Linked DNA regions of Homo sapiens: region 1 is linked to region 2. The links come from fine-mapping of genetic effects on gene expression. A gene starts in region 2. The other region holds a variant in brackets. All regions are shown on one strand. Distances are between the middles of the regions. Region 1 overlaps LRRC8B (leucine rich repeat containing 8 VRAC subunit B). Region 2 holds the start of LRRC8C-DT (LRRC8C divergent transcript).

Region 1 (8,340 bases), 91 kb after region 2:
ACACATAATATACCATTTTTATTAAAAAAAATTCTTACTATGGAAATTTTCTAATGTATATAGAAGTATGAATAATATTATAAGGGTCCCCCATATACCATTTACCCAGCTCCAACAATGATCAATTCATATCACACCCATGCCAGGTGTCTTGAAGCAAATCCTGGATGTATCGTTTCATCCGCAATGATTTCAGTACTGCATACATTCTTTCCTATACACCTCTGCTCAAACATTTCCCGTCCACCCCCTTCTTCAACTTTCCATATCTTATCACATCCTGCAAGCCTCACCTCCTACGATGTTTCCACTGAACTTGTGAGTCATATGCCTTCTTGGGACATCTGTCTTATTGTTGTCTTCTTGTTCTTAACTCTTAAGTTGAACACTCACTGTCATTGGCCTTGAAAGCAGGAAACCTCTCTCACCATACATATAGTGCAAGAATTCACGTTTAACAGGGAAAGAACCAAAGGATATCCAATTGGTTTTATAGAGTTTATTAAAATTTGACACAACAATTTTATTCAGCATATTAACCAAATTCTGTATGTGGGAAATGTCTTGGTAAATGCCTTGGACAGGGCATGCAGACACAGTATGACAGGGTGGAAAGAAGACTGGACACAGAGCTAAAAGGCCTGGTTCTTGTCCTGCCCTTCTGTTTACATGCTATTTTGGGTATATTGTGTAACTTCTCTGAGGAATAGGAATTAATTTCAGTCATTCTTCCTCTCTCCCTCTCTAAATTGTCGGAATCAAATGTGATTATTATGTAAAGATGATTTTATAACTGATAAAGTACACTGTTGATGCTCATCTTTACCTGTAAATGCAGAAATCATTGACCATATCACTAGACAACAAGAAGAGCTATTGGTTTGAATCCTAAATGTATAAGGAGAATAAATTTAAACTCCCAACAGGAAAAAAGGGAATGTGATAGTGCAGAGATCAGATGGGATTAAGAATCAAGAAAACTCACCCTGGGAGGAATGTAACAGCATACCTAGTATCTTTTTTAGACCTCAAAACCACTGCCTTATAATTAAACAAATTAGAAATTACAAAGAAAGCAATATATGTTTTCAACTATGTAAGAAAACTTCCTATTACGTTAAAAATTGAATTAAAAGGCAAAATTCAACATCTGATTTCCTCTTCAAATAAAACTTTCCAATTGTATCCAATAAAATGGTTATAATTTTGAGTTTATGCTCTCCTAGGACATTCTCAATGTCTTTGACTTCTCAGTTTTGCATTCTGCTTTTCCAAAGGAAAATCATTCATATCAAACTGCAAAGATCTATCATGTTACATCAAACAGTACTTAAAGTCAATATAATTGAGGTTTTTTCTTCCTCCAGTAGAAAAGAGGATAGATGGATTTATCAAGAAAGCACTGTTCTACAAACCATCCTGCAAACTTCACTACCATCCTGCGAGAGATCTGCAAATAGGCTTAGCCCATCTAAAGTACCCACTGGGATATTATTATTATTATAAGGTTTCTTACAAGCAAATAAAAATTACAGGCATTGGAGAAAAGGCTTAAATTTTGTAAAACTCTGAATAATCTAGGCCAACATAGGAAAAGGATTTTTCAACTTTGGACATTAATATGACTTAGCAATAGTCGATAAAAACAACAGCTGCTGAGCCTGGTAAATCCAAATGAGATTATTAGGTCAAAATCATAGAAATACACAGAGAACATTCCAAAATTCCCAGCACACTGACAATAAAGCACCCAAACCAGAATCTCATTAGGGAAAGAAACATTTTGTTTAGAAATAATTTTTTTTTACTACGACTTTACCATGTGTAACATCTCTGGGATGTTACTAGAGAGGAAAACAATAAGAATCAAAAGTGTAAACTACTGAACAATAGCTTCCTTCATTTCCCTTCCCTTCTCATGAAACCCTACTGCACACACCAAATAACTATGTATTCTTACACCTTGTTCTGCATAAACAGACATTTATAGAGATTTTAAAAATCATCTGGGCGCAGTGGCTTATGATGGTAATCTCAGCACTTTGGGAGGCCAAGGAGGGAGAATCACTTGAGTCCAAGAGTTCAAAACCAGCCTGGGCAACATAGCAAGACTTCATCTCTACAAATAATTAATAATAATAAAAATTAGCCAGGCTTGGTGGCATGCAACTGTGGTCCCAGCTACTCAGGAAGCTGAGGCAGGAGGATAGCCTGAGCCTGGGAGATCGGGGCTGGAGTGAGCCATGACAGTGCCACTGGACTCCAGCCTGGGCAACAGAGCAAGACCCCAACTCAAAAAAAAATGGCCAGGGATGGTGGCTCATGTCTGTAATCCCAGCACTTTGGGAGGCCAAGGTGGGTGGATCATCTGAGGTCAGGAGTTTGAGACCAGCCTGACCAATGTGGCAAAATCTCATCTCTACTAAAAAAAAAAAAATTAGCCAGGGCTGCTGGCATGTGCCTGTACTCCCAGCTACTCAGGAGGCTGAGGCAGGAGAATCACTTGAACCCGGGAGGCAGAGGTTGCAGTGAGCTGAGATTGTGCCACTGCACTCCAGCCCAGGTGACAGAGCAAGACTCCAACTTAAAAAAAAAAAAAATCAGTTTTTCAAAACTTAGATAATATTAGAATAAATTTTTTCTTGTATAATAGATTGTTTTATAATAAGAAAACTACCACTCACTGGCGTTTGTTACCTTCATGCACAACAGAAAAAGAATCAAAGAAGTTTTAGACTCCTAACAAATGAAATATGAATTTATACCTTAGACTTATGTTACTTTGAATACTTTGAGTATTGTTACCCATGATGACCAATTAGCATAAAAGACTTTTCAAGGTTATAGTCTACATGTCTCAAAATATACATTAAAAATGTGAAGGGCCATAGTTTTCTTTTACTTGTCTATTTACTGAATAAGGCTGAATTTCAGAAAATGTGAAGATTGAACAAGTTTCAGGCTATAACGAAAATTTAGGGGCTTTTGTGATCTGGTCCTGAGACAGCTATAATTTTTTCTATTTTGTCAATAGTGCTTTTATTAGATCAACAACTATGCAAGTCTAATTTTTCATCATTAAGTAATTTGACCCTACTTTAAAAATTACCAGGAAAAAGTAAATTTAAGTCTAGTTAACTGAACTGACAACTTACAAAAGATAAATCAGGTGGAGCTTGCCTTAATAGGTCCCCCCAGTACATAAGACAAAACAAGTCTAGTGTGAGGACACATAGGCCCTAACAAGTAGCTGATGTGAGGTTGAAGTAGTTGAATATGCTTGTATATTATAACCATAATGGATGCCAATACTCATGATGAGATAACTTTATGTTAAGTATTTTTATAAGTGCTTATATAAATTATTTAAAACTCTCAACAACCCCATGAGATTTTCTCCACTACAGATTGGCAACTGAGACAGTTATGTGACTTATCTAAACATGCACAAATAGTAAATTCATAATAGTAAAACGAGCATCAATATGAATATTCTTCAAAGAGATCTCTGAGAAAAATAAAAAGTAGCTTAGCTCCATGGAATGAACAACAGGCTAAACATGGATTCATTCATTCATTCATTCATTCACTCAGTCATTCAGTAAATATTTAGTGGCTGTTATGTGGTAAATGGCCCTGGAGAAGCAACAAAATAAACAAAACCCATGATGTCCTCAAACAGGTGCTATCTCTACCTCATGGAATTTATAGTCTGGTGACAGAGACAAAGATTAAACAAATCCTCAGTTATTTTATTATAATCACAGTAAGTGCTTCAGATGCTGTGGGGCAGGTAGAGGAACCACCTTGAAGACTCTGAAACTCATAGGAGACTGAGCCACTGTGAGAACTGAGCCAGAGAGCTCAAAAGCTTGCCCTAGCAGATGACACTCTTCTCTAGTCCCTTAGCTAAAGGTAGGTGCAGAAATAAATAATAACCAAGATGTCATGAAAGCAAGACATGTTCAAGGCCAGGAGGTCTCTGTCTAGTTCCATATTTTTGGTACACGAGAGTAGCCTTGGGTTTGTGTTCAAGTTTCAAATGCTCCCAGGATTTTACAACTTTTAAAGGTAAAAGCCATATATTACATTAAAAAATTTTAATCTGTGAATTAGTCATTTAAATAATATAATTTGTACATTATATCAAGAGAACAGTTACTAAAATTATCAGGAAAATTTCATTCTTGGTATAGTCAATGCTTTCTGTTCTGAAGAATGTGTGAAGGTGGCTACTTCAGGCATGTGGTAGAGTAGAAGTCAGCAAAAAGATGGAGGAGACTGAACTCTTATCCTGCCTACCATCTGCCTTAACTTTAGCCAAGTTATGGAGTCTCTCAGACAGCCAGCTTTTTTTTTTTTTTTTTTTTTTTTTTTTTTTTTTTTTTTGAGACGGAGTCTCCCTCTGTCGCCCAGGCTGGAGTGCAGTGGCGGGATCTCGGCTCACTGCAAGCTCCGCCTCCCGGGTTCACGCCATTCTCCTGCCTCAGCCTCCCAAGTAGCTGGGACTACAGGCGCCCGCCACTACGCCCGGCTAATGTTTTGTATTTTTAGTAGAGACGGGGTTTCACCGTTTTAGCCGGGATGGTCTCGATCTCCTGACCTCGTGATCCGCCCGCCTCGGCCTCCCAAAGTGCTGGGATTACAGGCGTGAGCCACC[G/A]CGCCCGGCCAGAAAGCCAGCTTTTTAATTGATAAAAATAGAAATAACTCTACCTGGTCTACTTTCTATGTTCACAGTGATGACAACATCAAAAGTGATGGGAACTCTCTCTGCCCAGGAGGTTTTAGAGAACAGCAATCCATGAAAGAATAAGCTCCTCACAAATACAACCTCTATTCTCTCTAGGCCAAGAAACCTTACCCAATGAGCCCATAATTTTTTAGCTTTCTGGAAGACAATGAGCTAAGCTGCCTGGAGGGATTACCTGGTTTCAGCAAACCTCTCCTGTGCAAAGTGTCATTATTCTTCCATAGAACAAATAGTACTTCCCCCAAATCTTTTCCCATTTCCAGTCAGAAGACATAAATGTTTAGAAGCTATAATTTAAAAAGTTGTGCTAATATAAAGCACACTCACTGGTAACCTGAAATTTGACAATTTGACCCCAAATCATCTGGTTCAAAACTTAATCCACTCCTTCTCTGAAAAAGTTAGAAGCTATAGTAAAACTAGTAAAATGTCAGTAATCACAGTTTGACTTAAGTAATTACCATAGGATCTTCTGATAAAAGGAAATAGAATATTTAATCCTATGACTTTTTTCTAAACTAACTTTTCTACTAGTCTCCTCTACTTCATCCCACTGCCCTACTTGGTCTCGCAATATGATCTCTCTCATCTTCAGCACACCCTCCACACAGTTGCCAGTGTTACTTCCCAAAACTAATCTGATATAATCTCTCAAAACCTTCCTTGGGGCTCCTGGGCTCTTCCTGAGGAAGCTGTATGCTTTGTATAGAGATATAAATGTATCTCCAAGCTCACCCCTGGCAGAGGCTGTGCCACGGTCAGCACTGGCTGTTCCAACTCCCACTCCAATGCTCTTGTTCTTTCATTCGTGTCACAAAGGGGAAAAGCTGACATGACTGGGGAAGGTTACACTGTGTGGGTTTTTTAAAACTCAAAGCGTGGGGTTGATTCAGACATATTTTCACATCACTGTTAGGGCCATTACAACAGATAACAAAATTGGCAAAGTATACTTCTTTTGCTCGTCAAGTAAAAAGAAAAGAGCCACATAGGCAAAGAAACAAGAATTTAGAGGTAGAAGGAGTTTCAGGCCCTCATACTACAATGTAATGGACACATGGATCATTCAGCTTCTATAGCTCCAAATATTTGATTCATGTATCACAACTTATATTCTAAACATAGTATTATTTTAAAACTATACAGGTCCCTAAACATAAAAATATAAGCAACATAAAACTTAAAAAATAATAAACTTAAAAATAATTGTCCAGGTGATGGAATTGAGTAGCTGGAACACTTTATTTAATCTTAGGTAATTGATTAAAGATATCCAGAAATGATACGTGAAGATGTAATAAATAAAATAATAGACATGCATGTAGAAGGTTAAAAACAATTTATGGAAAATTTCTCCTGGATCTTATGGAAAGCTAACTTTCACAATATCTGCTGAATATTTAATTATAATTCTAAAACAAGCACAAAATAAGCATGCATTAGCTGTTCAACTACTTATTTTTAAAAGTTCAATGGCCCCAATGGCCAGGAGCAAATATTGCAAGTTATTAGTAATCCAGATTTATTTTTATTTAATTTAAAAAAAATCTAACATAGGCTAAGTACCTTGAAGTGGGAGAAACCTAGCTGATAAATCTTTCTATTGAAAGGTTAAGTTGAACAATGCAAAATCAAGCAAAAGGATCAATGACTGGTGAACATTACAGCTGGCTTGATTCCCTCCAATGGAATATGCTTCAGCAGAAGTATCTGTCCTTTGCAATGTGTTGTTTCTGTGGCCCTAATTTCTATATTACACTTTCCATGCAGACTCCCATTAGTCTTTCTTCACCTTCATGACTCCTGGGTAGAATAAGGACTGATAAAGTAAAAGACGATGGGAATTGTAGGGTCCAAATCAGCCCATAACCCCAGTCCCTATACCCCCACAATGTTGGGCTGGTCCAGTTCTATCATCAGTGAAGAAAAAGCAACGCCTGAAAATCCTAGATCTCTTTTTAGCATTGTAAACCATGTAGGAGATGCTTATTACATCTGCTTTGTTCTCTATTTCTATGGTGCCTGTCACCATAGTAACAGGGCATACAGATGAAAAAGTAGGCTAGAAATACCCAAATATGGGGGGCGGAGAGGGCAATATGGGGGAAAGGGCCTTTCACTGATTAGGAAAGAAAAGGCTAGAATTTCTTCTTTCAGAGTTGTCAATGCATTAAGGGGTAATTCTAACTAGAAAAATAGGTTTTCTTTGCCTTTAAGAGAGCAACAATAGAAAATACCCTAAAATGTCAATAAATATCAATGTTTCTAGGAGGTAGTCTTGCTAGGCTTCTGAGATTTTAAAGCCAGATGTATTAAAAACCTTGAAGGGGCTGGGTGCGGTGGCTCACACCTGTAATCCCAGCACTTTGGGAGGCCAAGATGGGTGGATCACCTGAGGTCAGGAGTTTGAGACCAGCCTGGCCAACATGGCGAAACCCCATCTCTATTAAAAAATACGTAAATTAGCCGGGTGTGGTGGTGGGTGCCTGTAGTCCCAGCTACTTGGGAGGCTGAGGTAGGGGAATCGCTTGAACCCGGTAGGTGGAGGTTGCAGTGAGCTGAGATCATGTCACTGCATTCCAGCTTGGGCAACAAAGTGAGGCTCTGTCTAAAAAACAAACAAACAAACAAAAAAAAACCTCGAAGATGCTAATTTAAACCTTTAAACAGCATCTAGTTTTGGAAATGACATACTCATGCTGCAGTGTGGATGACTGCTACTTAAAATATTTAGTTACTTTGTAGTACTAAAAGTTGACACATCCGTTAAGGAAGTGTGGTTGGGAAGATAACTTACTACAATGAGTATTTCCCTAAAAGTGACAAGTTTATCTTCCAAGTCTCTGTATAAAATGTCCCCAAAGGAAATCACTGGGGTTGGGGTGGGGGATGACAGTCACTTCACTCTAAGGGAGTCACTGCTTCTATGAAAGAAAGAGGAACATTCTCTCCTGTCTACTGGTTCAGACCTTCAAAGGCACTATCAGTTCCTAACTGTTCTTTGCCATGCCAAAATTTCATCTATAAGGAAAGAGAAATCTTCCCACTTCAAGACCTCTGTTTCTTATTTTGCTTTTTTTCTCTCCTGCCACCAGCCAGAGTTCTCCTTGCTCATAATTTTCTAGGACATTTGGAATACCTGAAATGTTCTTTATCTTGTGATACTGGTCTCCTGAGTAGCTGGGATTACAGGCTCCAGCCACCATGCCTGGGTCCAAAAGAGTGGTATGTTCTAACCATGCTCTTTCAGAGTGAAGTTTCTTTCAGAGTAAACAGGACAAGGAGCCCTACCAGCCACATACTTGGGGAGGTTTTACTCTGTGTAAATAAAAATGATGCATGTCTTAATCCATTCAGGCTCCTATAACAAAATACCATGAACTAGGGTGGCTAATAAACAACAAACATTTATTTCTCACAGTTCCAGAAGTTAGGAATTCTGAGATCACAAGATGTCAGCAGACTTGGTGACCAGTGAGGTCCAGTTCCTTATAGATGGTACCCTATTGCTGTATCCTCACATGGTGGGAGAGGCAAACAAGCTCCCTCCAACCTCCTTTATAAGAACACCAATCCTGGATAGGCGTGGT
Region 2 (8,340 bases):
TAGAAACCATCTGTGTATTATCCCAAGCAAAAATATAAAGAAATTTTTTAAAAATCCCTGACGTCAAAGAGTTTATAGTCTTTCAAATATATTACCTGGAAAAATAAGAATTTTAAAAAAATTTTAAAATAGCATTAGGAGTGGGCCGGGTGCTGTGCCTCATGCCTGTAATCTCAGCACTTTTGGAGGGGTACGTGTTGTCTGAATTATAAGTGAACTGACAAGGATCTGGAGGGAAACAGGCAGGCTCATGAAGGAGGTAGCTTTTATGCTGAGCCTTGTAGGAGATGCAGAATTTCAGCTGGTGGAGGCTTGGTCAAGGGTGAGGTGTGTGGTGGGGAGAGACTGGCATTGTCATGGTACCCTGAGTGATATACAAGGCTAAGAGATCAGGAGAGGCAGAAAAAAGGAAAGTATGTTTGCCAAAAAATACAAATTCCGATCCATCAACATATTGTTAGTAAAGTAAAAATAAAATAAAAGAGTAAGAGCAAAGGAAAAACTATAGAATGAGTACATGTTTCTGACTCAAGACAACAAAAAAGGATGTGATTCAAAAGTTAAAGATGCTAAGAATCAGATTAGACCTTTGTATAATTACATAAAGAGTGAATCACTGATAGCAATGACTAATCACTACGTGCATGTAAAATATACATAAAGTGAAATACAGCAGAAGTTTCTACCAGTGCTAGGATACACTGGTGTTAATCCTTACTGAGCACCTACTAGGTGACAAGAGCTGTCCTTTACATGCACTATTACAAGTAATCTGCACAGTGATCCAGCTAGGGAGGCTTTATTAATCCCATTATACAAGAGGAAACCAGGGTTCAAAGAAGTTGAATAATCTGACCTCATTTGCACTCCTACTGCACGGCAGAGTCCGAATTTGACAGCAGCTTTTTCTGGAGGCCATTCTCTTTACCCCATGCCAAACCAGAATGATTTATAGTTCAAAAGGAATCAAGTAGATTCAAGGATACCTCCATGGTTATGTAACCCTCATTAGTTGTAATATGCTTTTATGAGTGATCTGAAACTGGAGATACAGTCAACACTCCAGAAATGAAGTATAAAATCTTGGGAGTGTGTTACAGCCCATGAGACCATCATTGTCATGTCAGTGATAATAGCTGATGGGCAGGAGTAAATTGTCCATAAGGTTAAGCTCTGGATCAGTCATTTAAGAGAAATCAGTGGCAAGAACATGGGTTTTAGAAACAGATGGCCTTGATTCAAAATTGGAATTCTGTTATATGGAAAACGCTGGGCAGAAAACTTTACAATCTCTGTTTCCTCATATAGTCACTATGGTGAGTTAACAACAAATTTATATAGAAAAAATAAATAAGCAGCTTTGGATAATAAAAAAAAGTATATCATTAAGACTAAGGAGGCTTGGCTTCATTCAGGCACTAACTTAGCTGCATAGTCTTCAGCCAAATCAGAAACTCTGAACTTCCTTCTTATGTAAAATGTGGATGGCACCATTTACCTTAGGGGTTCATTGTAAGAACCTGAGATAATGTGTATTAGGTATCTAGCATGCAGCTAGATTATGTTATAGCAATGTACCATATTAAATCATTAACACAATTCTTGGCAAAATAAATATAGTTTCCACCTCATTTCATTTTAAACTTAGGCTCGCTCTATTATAATGTCATAGGTGACTATAACTTAATAATACTATAGAGTATTAAAAATCATAACAATTTGGTAAAAATTGAACACTTGGGAGTTAAACATATTTCTAACTTTGTATTGTTTTTTAAAAGATAAACTTCATGGAAATAAAGTGCAACATTTTCATTCATTTATCTTACAGCTCCTAATGCATTATTTTCACTAAAAGCATTCCCTTTTAAAAATACATTTCATTAAAGTGCTTAATCTGAGAAATAATAGATTAGTACTATTAATAAAGGCTTGATTTTATTAATAAGAAAATTGTTAAATATACTTGGTATCTCTGATACAATTGTTGGGTTGATGGGTCCTGTCTGTGCCCAATCTATTATGTGAACCATGGCAAATATCCATCTTTGCAAAACTGCCCTACATCCCCCTCAAAGGAAACAAACTGACCCCAAGACAGAACTTAATCACTCCAGAGTAAAGCAAACCAATTATAGCCTTGGCCTTCCCTGTTAAAGCAAGTCACAAGAAATGCAAATATCCTAGACTAGAGCTGTATACATTTAATGTTTGTTTACACACTCAACACATTGTTTATGAATTGAGCGAGTTTTATGCAGCTCAGATTACGTTTTGGGTTTTCAACAAATTATTTAAAAATAAACAGAATTTATAAATGTATAAAAATTATTGGCTCTGGCGATTTTGCAGCATTGTGCTAACCAAGAGGACTACTCCACTTTTACTCCTTTTTCGTCTAAATGGCATCTTAATGACCTGCCCACGCTGAAGCCTCATCGATGCTTTGGGAAACCATCACATACCTGTCGGGAAATGTGACTGTTGGTTAAGGCTACGTTTCTCACACTACCGCGAAAGAAGTATGTGACTTACAAACGGCTGCGATTTCCTTTACCTATTCCTTCCTTCAAAGGCTGCTTTAAATGGAGGTAATTCAAGCCTCCCCGTGCCAAACACCGGCACTCCAACAAAGATGGATTGGTTCTTATTTTTTACTTTGAGGATGGGAACCTGAAAATGTTTCCTAACGTTTGCTGAGGCTTTAACATGTTTAAGGAATTTGAAACCAAGGGAAGTTTAGCCGTAATACTCTGAAATATCCGCATTAGGATGCGGGCTAGGTGTCCGGCTGTTGCAAAACTACGGAGGATGCGAGGTTTGGAAGAAACTGTTTGGACTTTGCTGTATACCGGGCAGGCGTGGGGGTTGGGGAGGGAAGAACCGGCTGAGGGAGAAAAGAAAGGCATTCGTGTCCACAGAACACATCTAAGGCTCCTGAGTTGCTAACTCCATCCCTAATCATCTCATTGGTGGGAACCAGCTGGAAAGGGAAAGATCAGCGAGCCTAGGCGTGGGATGAAGGCAGCGGTTTTGGCCTCAACCGCTGGCCTAAACACCTGGCTTCTGGGGCCCGCCCGATCAAGCTGAACCCCTTCCCTCCTGTCCTGCAGGTGAGCACACGGTGCTCTCACGTTTCTTCGAGAAACCTTCCAATTCCTTTCCCTGCCCAAAAGTGCTAACTTCAAGGGTTCGGAGGTGGCAGGGGGGTGATAGACCGGAAAGGACTGGCCCCGGGGTCTCAGAGATTTTCGAGGTAGGAAAGAACAACGATCGCCCCGGCCACGGACGCATTTCCCCTCGCGGACCGCCCCCCCACCCCCGCGCCCAGTCTGCAGGACCTGCCGCTGCGGCGCGGCGTTGGGCGCCAGGCTGAGATCCTCGCGCGGCCGCTCGGGCTAGCGCGGATTGGGTGGGGTAGGGGTTGGCGGGCTCCTGAGCCGCAGTAGCGGAAGGTTCCCAGCACCACACGCCGGGCGGGCAACCACATTCTGCCTGTCTGAGAGCCGGGGGGAAGCAAGGACGCGAGTGAGGCGGGGCGAGTCCCGGTCCGGCGCGCACAGCGGACCGAGCGGGTGGCCCTCTGCGGGCTGCCCCTCTCCATCCCTCCGCGGATCCCCCGCCCTTACCTCCGGGCGCGAGAGTGTCGACTGGAGAAGGTGCTAGGGAGCGGCGAGCTGCCTGGGGGTCGGGCTCAGCGGCTGCCAGGGACGGCGGCGTCGCCCGCGGGGTCGCTGCTCATGGCTTGTCGCGCCCGAGCACTGCGGCCGCGGCCACGGCGGCGCCTTCCTCCTACTTCTCTTCGCGGGCTTCCAGCCGGGACGCAGCTAACGCCCCAGCCCCGCAAGCCCTCCTCCCCTCCGCCTCCCCGGCCGCGGACGGAGCCGCCTCCAGCGCCGCCCCGCACGCAGCCCGGCTAGCGGCAGCCAGCGCCGCCCAGCGCCCGGCCCCGGGGTCGCCACCGCCCGCCGAGTCGACTCCGCGGTGCCAGCCCCGCTGTGACGCAGGCCGCGCCGCCCGGGAACTTCCTCCCCTGCAGAGACCACCTCGCTCCCGGGACTCGCCAGCGAGGGATGCCGCCGGCCGCCGGGGGCCTTCTCCAGGACCAGGAGAGAAATCCTCTCTCCGCTTCACGACGCGGCCACTCCCACCCCTGAGACGCCCACCTGGCGGACTCTGAGGGAGGATTCGGCTGCGTCTAATACCACCTCCACCCCTCATCCCTCACAATGCGCGGAAAACCACAGGCGGCTGTGCGCGCAGCGTCGGCTCAGCCACCGCAGCTCCTCCCCTGGGTAAGTTAGAGGGGAGCAGCCACCACTAAAAATAGCCCTTCTGGGAACTCCTCCGAAGGCCAGGGTCAGGATGAAGATAACCCCTCCACAGGAGAAGCGAAGGCCTCCTAAGAGAAGGGTGGGGAGGGGACGGTGGGATAGAATGAGGAAGATGGAGAAGGAGAAAAGCAAAACCCAATATCCTTGGATCATGAAGCCCTTGAGCCCCTTGACAACCAAGTCTCCTTTCAGGCCGGAATCCCCAACTGCACCGCCCCTGCAATACGGGCTAAGGGGCAGATTCCAGGGAGACTCAGTTGGAATGCCCCGCCTACAGCTCCCGCATAAAGGAGTTGACGGTGCACAGCAAAACCACCTGTTGTTTAACGAGTATGGAGGGAGGGGTTCTCTCTCATTGATTGATCTGAACCGTGCTTTTCTTCTCCCCATTTTCCCACCCAATTTCAGGATGAAAAAGCACTCTGACGTCTTGAAAGCTGGCAGCTCTCTGTTTGGAAAATCTCTGCCCAGTGAAAAAATGTACCGACAAGATTACTAAGTAACACAGTCTTCTGGGAATGCCTTATCAATGCCAGCTATTTGAAGAGCACCCAAAGTCAAACTAGTGCTCCGCGCTGGCAGTCTGGAAAAGGCAGATGTATGTGAGTAGAGAAACTGATAGACAACTAGTTGCTGGCCAGTTGGCCTGTTTTCGTGCTACAAGCCTTCAGAAAACAGTCGCCTCCTTTTACCACGTTTCTATTTCTAAACCAAAATGAAAAGGACGTTTGTTCAAAAGATATTCTCTTGGGCTTTACATTGCTTTCCCCCTGCTCACTCAGCAAAATCCTACACTTTTTTTCCAATTCCAATGCTGCTGTTGGGTGTCCTTCCCAGAAGACAACCTTAAATTCTCTTAGGCCTTAGGAGCTGAATCTAACACCAGTCTTAATTAACCTACAACAAGACAAAAATTTAGGTCCGGGCTTACCTCCTAGTCAGCAGATGGGAAAAATTCCTAGAGAGTCTCTGGGAAAAAGGCAAAGGCTAACTTTAGCAGTTTGCTAGAAAAAAAAAAATTCAAGTACCTTGTAAGTCACCAGGGTAGATGCAGCAATACTCTCTAAGGTAGCTTTACCTCTTCAATTCTCTTACCTTACCTGAATTTAAACACAGTGAGGCAAGTACCAAGGTCACAACCCTCCTGTGGAGGGCCTTATTCTGCAAGGGCTCTCTGATATACTTCTATCTTTGTACCGTTGGCACCTGACCACAAGCTTAGGCATCCCTGAAATGCTCCCTTGCTACCCAGTGTCAAGGAATCATTGAACCTTAGACTTTGTACTCAGGTGAACCAGGATGAAATCCCTATTCTTCCAGTTTAAACTTAGGAAATTTACTGTTCTTTTTATCTGCCCCCTCCCCACCACCCACATCCCCTTATCATCCCTATAGGTATAGTACTACAGGGTGCTGTGAGAATTAGCTAATATGCTCAAAGCACCAAGAACAGTGCCAATCACTTTGTAAGTAGTCAGTAAATGAGAGCTACTATTGTACTTAACTACTCTTCACTGAAAGCAAAAGAACCAGGAATAGCAAAAAGGTTTGGAAACCTGGGATCTGAATCCCCTGCAAGTTGAGTCCACCCCAAGTTGCTTTATTGCAATACTTTTGGCTACTCTTGTGTCTGCCTTCTAATTGGATCAACTGGGTAGTTCTTCACGTGTAGGCAGGTGATTCACATGCACATTAATGCTTGAAAGCCACTAGTCTAAAAACTATGCTACACTGGTTAGTTCACCTCTTCTTATTTTGTAGCATGTAAACCTTAAATCTAGTGATCTTACCTCAGTCCACCTAATTCACATTAACATCCACACTTAGCAAGCTCTCTGTAAAGGACTGGTAGAATTAGCAATCAGTCAACTTGAGTGAGGGTCTTAAAGAAGTACAAGGCTTATTCTCCGACTTCAGGGTGTTCATAGTTCATGGGAATCATGCATACACACAAACCAGAATAAACCATTTTGAAGCAAATGTGCTTGAAGTTCAGCACATCTCCAGGAAGGAGAGGGTACTGTGAGCTAGATGAACTGGGTGCACAGACTCTGTCTTGACCTTTCACTTTATACCCAATTCTTTAGGCTAAATTTTGACATTCTAATTGGACTTCCAGAGTTAGTAGTTCTCACACTAAAGACTGTGTAATTACAAGTTAACCATGTACAGGTTGGTGATAGAAGCAGAAGTAGATATTTCTGGGCTATGCAGGGCTATGGTAAGGGATTTGGAATGAAATAGGTCTGGGCTTAAATCTTGTATCTCTAGCTATGAACTTCAGTTTCCTCATCAGTCTATTGGAATATAACTACCTTTTAGGGTTGTGGTGAGACTTAGAATATCTGTAACCCCTCTAGTGGGTTGTATGGTAACAGCAATTGTGTCACATTGTTGTTTTGTTGTTAGCTGTAAGAAAACTCAGGCTGGGCTGAGTTGTTCCTTGAAGGCGTAATTAATTAATTTTTTCTGAGACAGAGTCTCATGCTGTGTGATCTCGCTGACTGCAACTTCCGCCTTCCAGGTTCAAGCAATTCTCCTTGCCTCATCCTCCTGACTAGCTGGGATTACAGGTGCCCGCCACCACGCCCAGCTAATTTTTGTATTTATTTATTTTTTTTAGTAGAGATGGGTTTTCACCATGTTGGCCAGGCTGGTCTCAAACTCCTGACCTCAGGTGATCCACCCGCCTTGGCCTCCCAAAGTGCTGGGATTATAGGCATGAGCCACCACGCCTGGCCTGAAGGCATAATTTAAAAGTCACCTTCTCTATGAAGCCTCCACAGGTTCTAGGCAAGTATAACTCTTCCTTCCTTGTGTGACCACAGCACTTACCATGGCATGCTCTCATTTGTCTCTTTACATGCCTCTTCACTACAGAGTCTGGGAGCCTCTCCAGGGCAGGGCTGTATCTTGATTCACTTTTATGTCCATTATCAATACCCTGCACAGGACCTGATATTAAATATTGAAATAATGAGTTTTTAAGTGTTTCAGTTTCTTGTATTGGTTCTGACTTTCAGTATAACTCTTATTATACTACAGGCTCTAAAACCTGAACCCTTTAGCTCATAAATAATTCATACTAAATTTATGTATTATGTATATGTATCTGCTTAAACCTTGATGATGTCAATGCTGGGATTGTTCTTTCAGATCAACCTGCTATTCTTGTTTTGTTTTGCATTTGATTTCAGTTGATCCTACCTGGTAAGAGTGCAAGTAAAATCTACATTCTAAACCAAAACCACCAGCAGGATTTTACGCTGCATTCTCTATCCACCCTGTGCACATCTGCTCCCCATACCATTTCTGAGCTTTGTGGGAAGAGGCTGAGCTAAAAGAAAACGTTGTTGTTTTAAGTTTCAGTTGTTTAGACTGTTGCAACCATTAGCACTTTCTGAATTAATACCTGCAAGATAAATGCTACCTTTAGCAACAGTTTTGAAATCCTTGACTCTGTGCCATTAAAAATGCTAGACAGGGAAAAATAAAACCTTCCCTAGAAAATTCTTTTGCCCAGAAAGTTGCCTGAGAGGTAATGTCAAATGTGGACTTGATCCCAAAATGGCAGTTGAATTTGTACCAGAGGAGATGGTGGTCTATTGGGGCTAAAAATGATACCCCAAAATGAAGGAATAAAAAGCAGCCTCAGAAGCAAAGTCTCTGTCTAGCTTTCTCCTGCCCTCCTGTCTCTCACTCTCTTATTCTCCCTTGAAGCAAGCCATAGAAACTGGAATCCTTCTTCCCTGAGGTGGGTCATATAAACCAGAACCTTTTCCCCAAAACCAGCCTTAGAGCCTAAACATTTTACTCTAATCTTCTCCCTCCCTTCCCTTTCTCTTTCTTGCTAACTGCTGGCCATAAAGAAATTAAGACCCTCATTCCAGGGGGTCCTACCCCATACCTGGGAGGAAGGAATGTTATATCGAAAGGCCAAGAAGAAATCTGAACAGACAGGCCTTGCTGGATTTCCCCATTCCCCTTGCTGGATCATACCCCTTTT

The links. PIP is the estimated chance that this variant, and not a neighbour inherited with it, causes the effect.
Region 1: its variant is fine-mapped to the expression of LRRC8C-DT in CD4 T cells (BLUEPRINT, PIP 0.95).

Annotation. Positions count from the first base shown.
Region 1 is chr1:89,537,760-89,546,099 of GRCh38, reverse strand. The region is part of intron 1 of LRRC8B (leucine rich repeat containing 8 VRAC subunit B); the gene reads right to left. Among named protein-coding and RNA genes, the nearest start is that of LRRC8B, 17 kb to the right of the region's middle. The variant G/A (reference allele first, on the strand shown) is at 4,661.
Region 2 is chr1:89,628,612-89,636,951 of GRCh38, reverse strand. LRRC8C-DT (LRRC8C divergent transcript) reads left to right here and starts at 4,058. Exons shown (of 3, transcript NR_033981.1): 1 at 4,058-4,295; 2 at 4,743-4,936. It overlaps LRRC8C (leucine rich repeat containing 8 VRAC subunit C), which reads right to left and starts at 3,832. Exons shown (of 3, transcript NM_032270.5): 1 at 3,630-3,832. RefSeq lists enhancers at 2,861-2,910, 2,941-2,990 and a silencer at 3,371-4,030.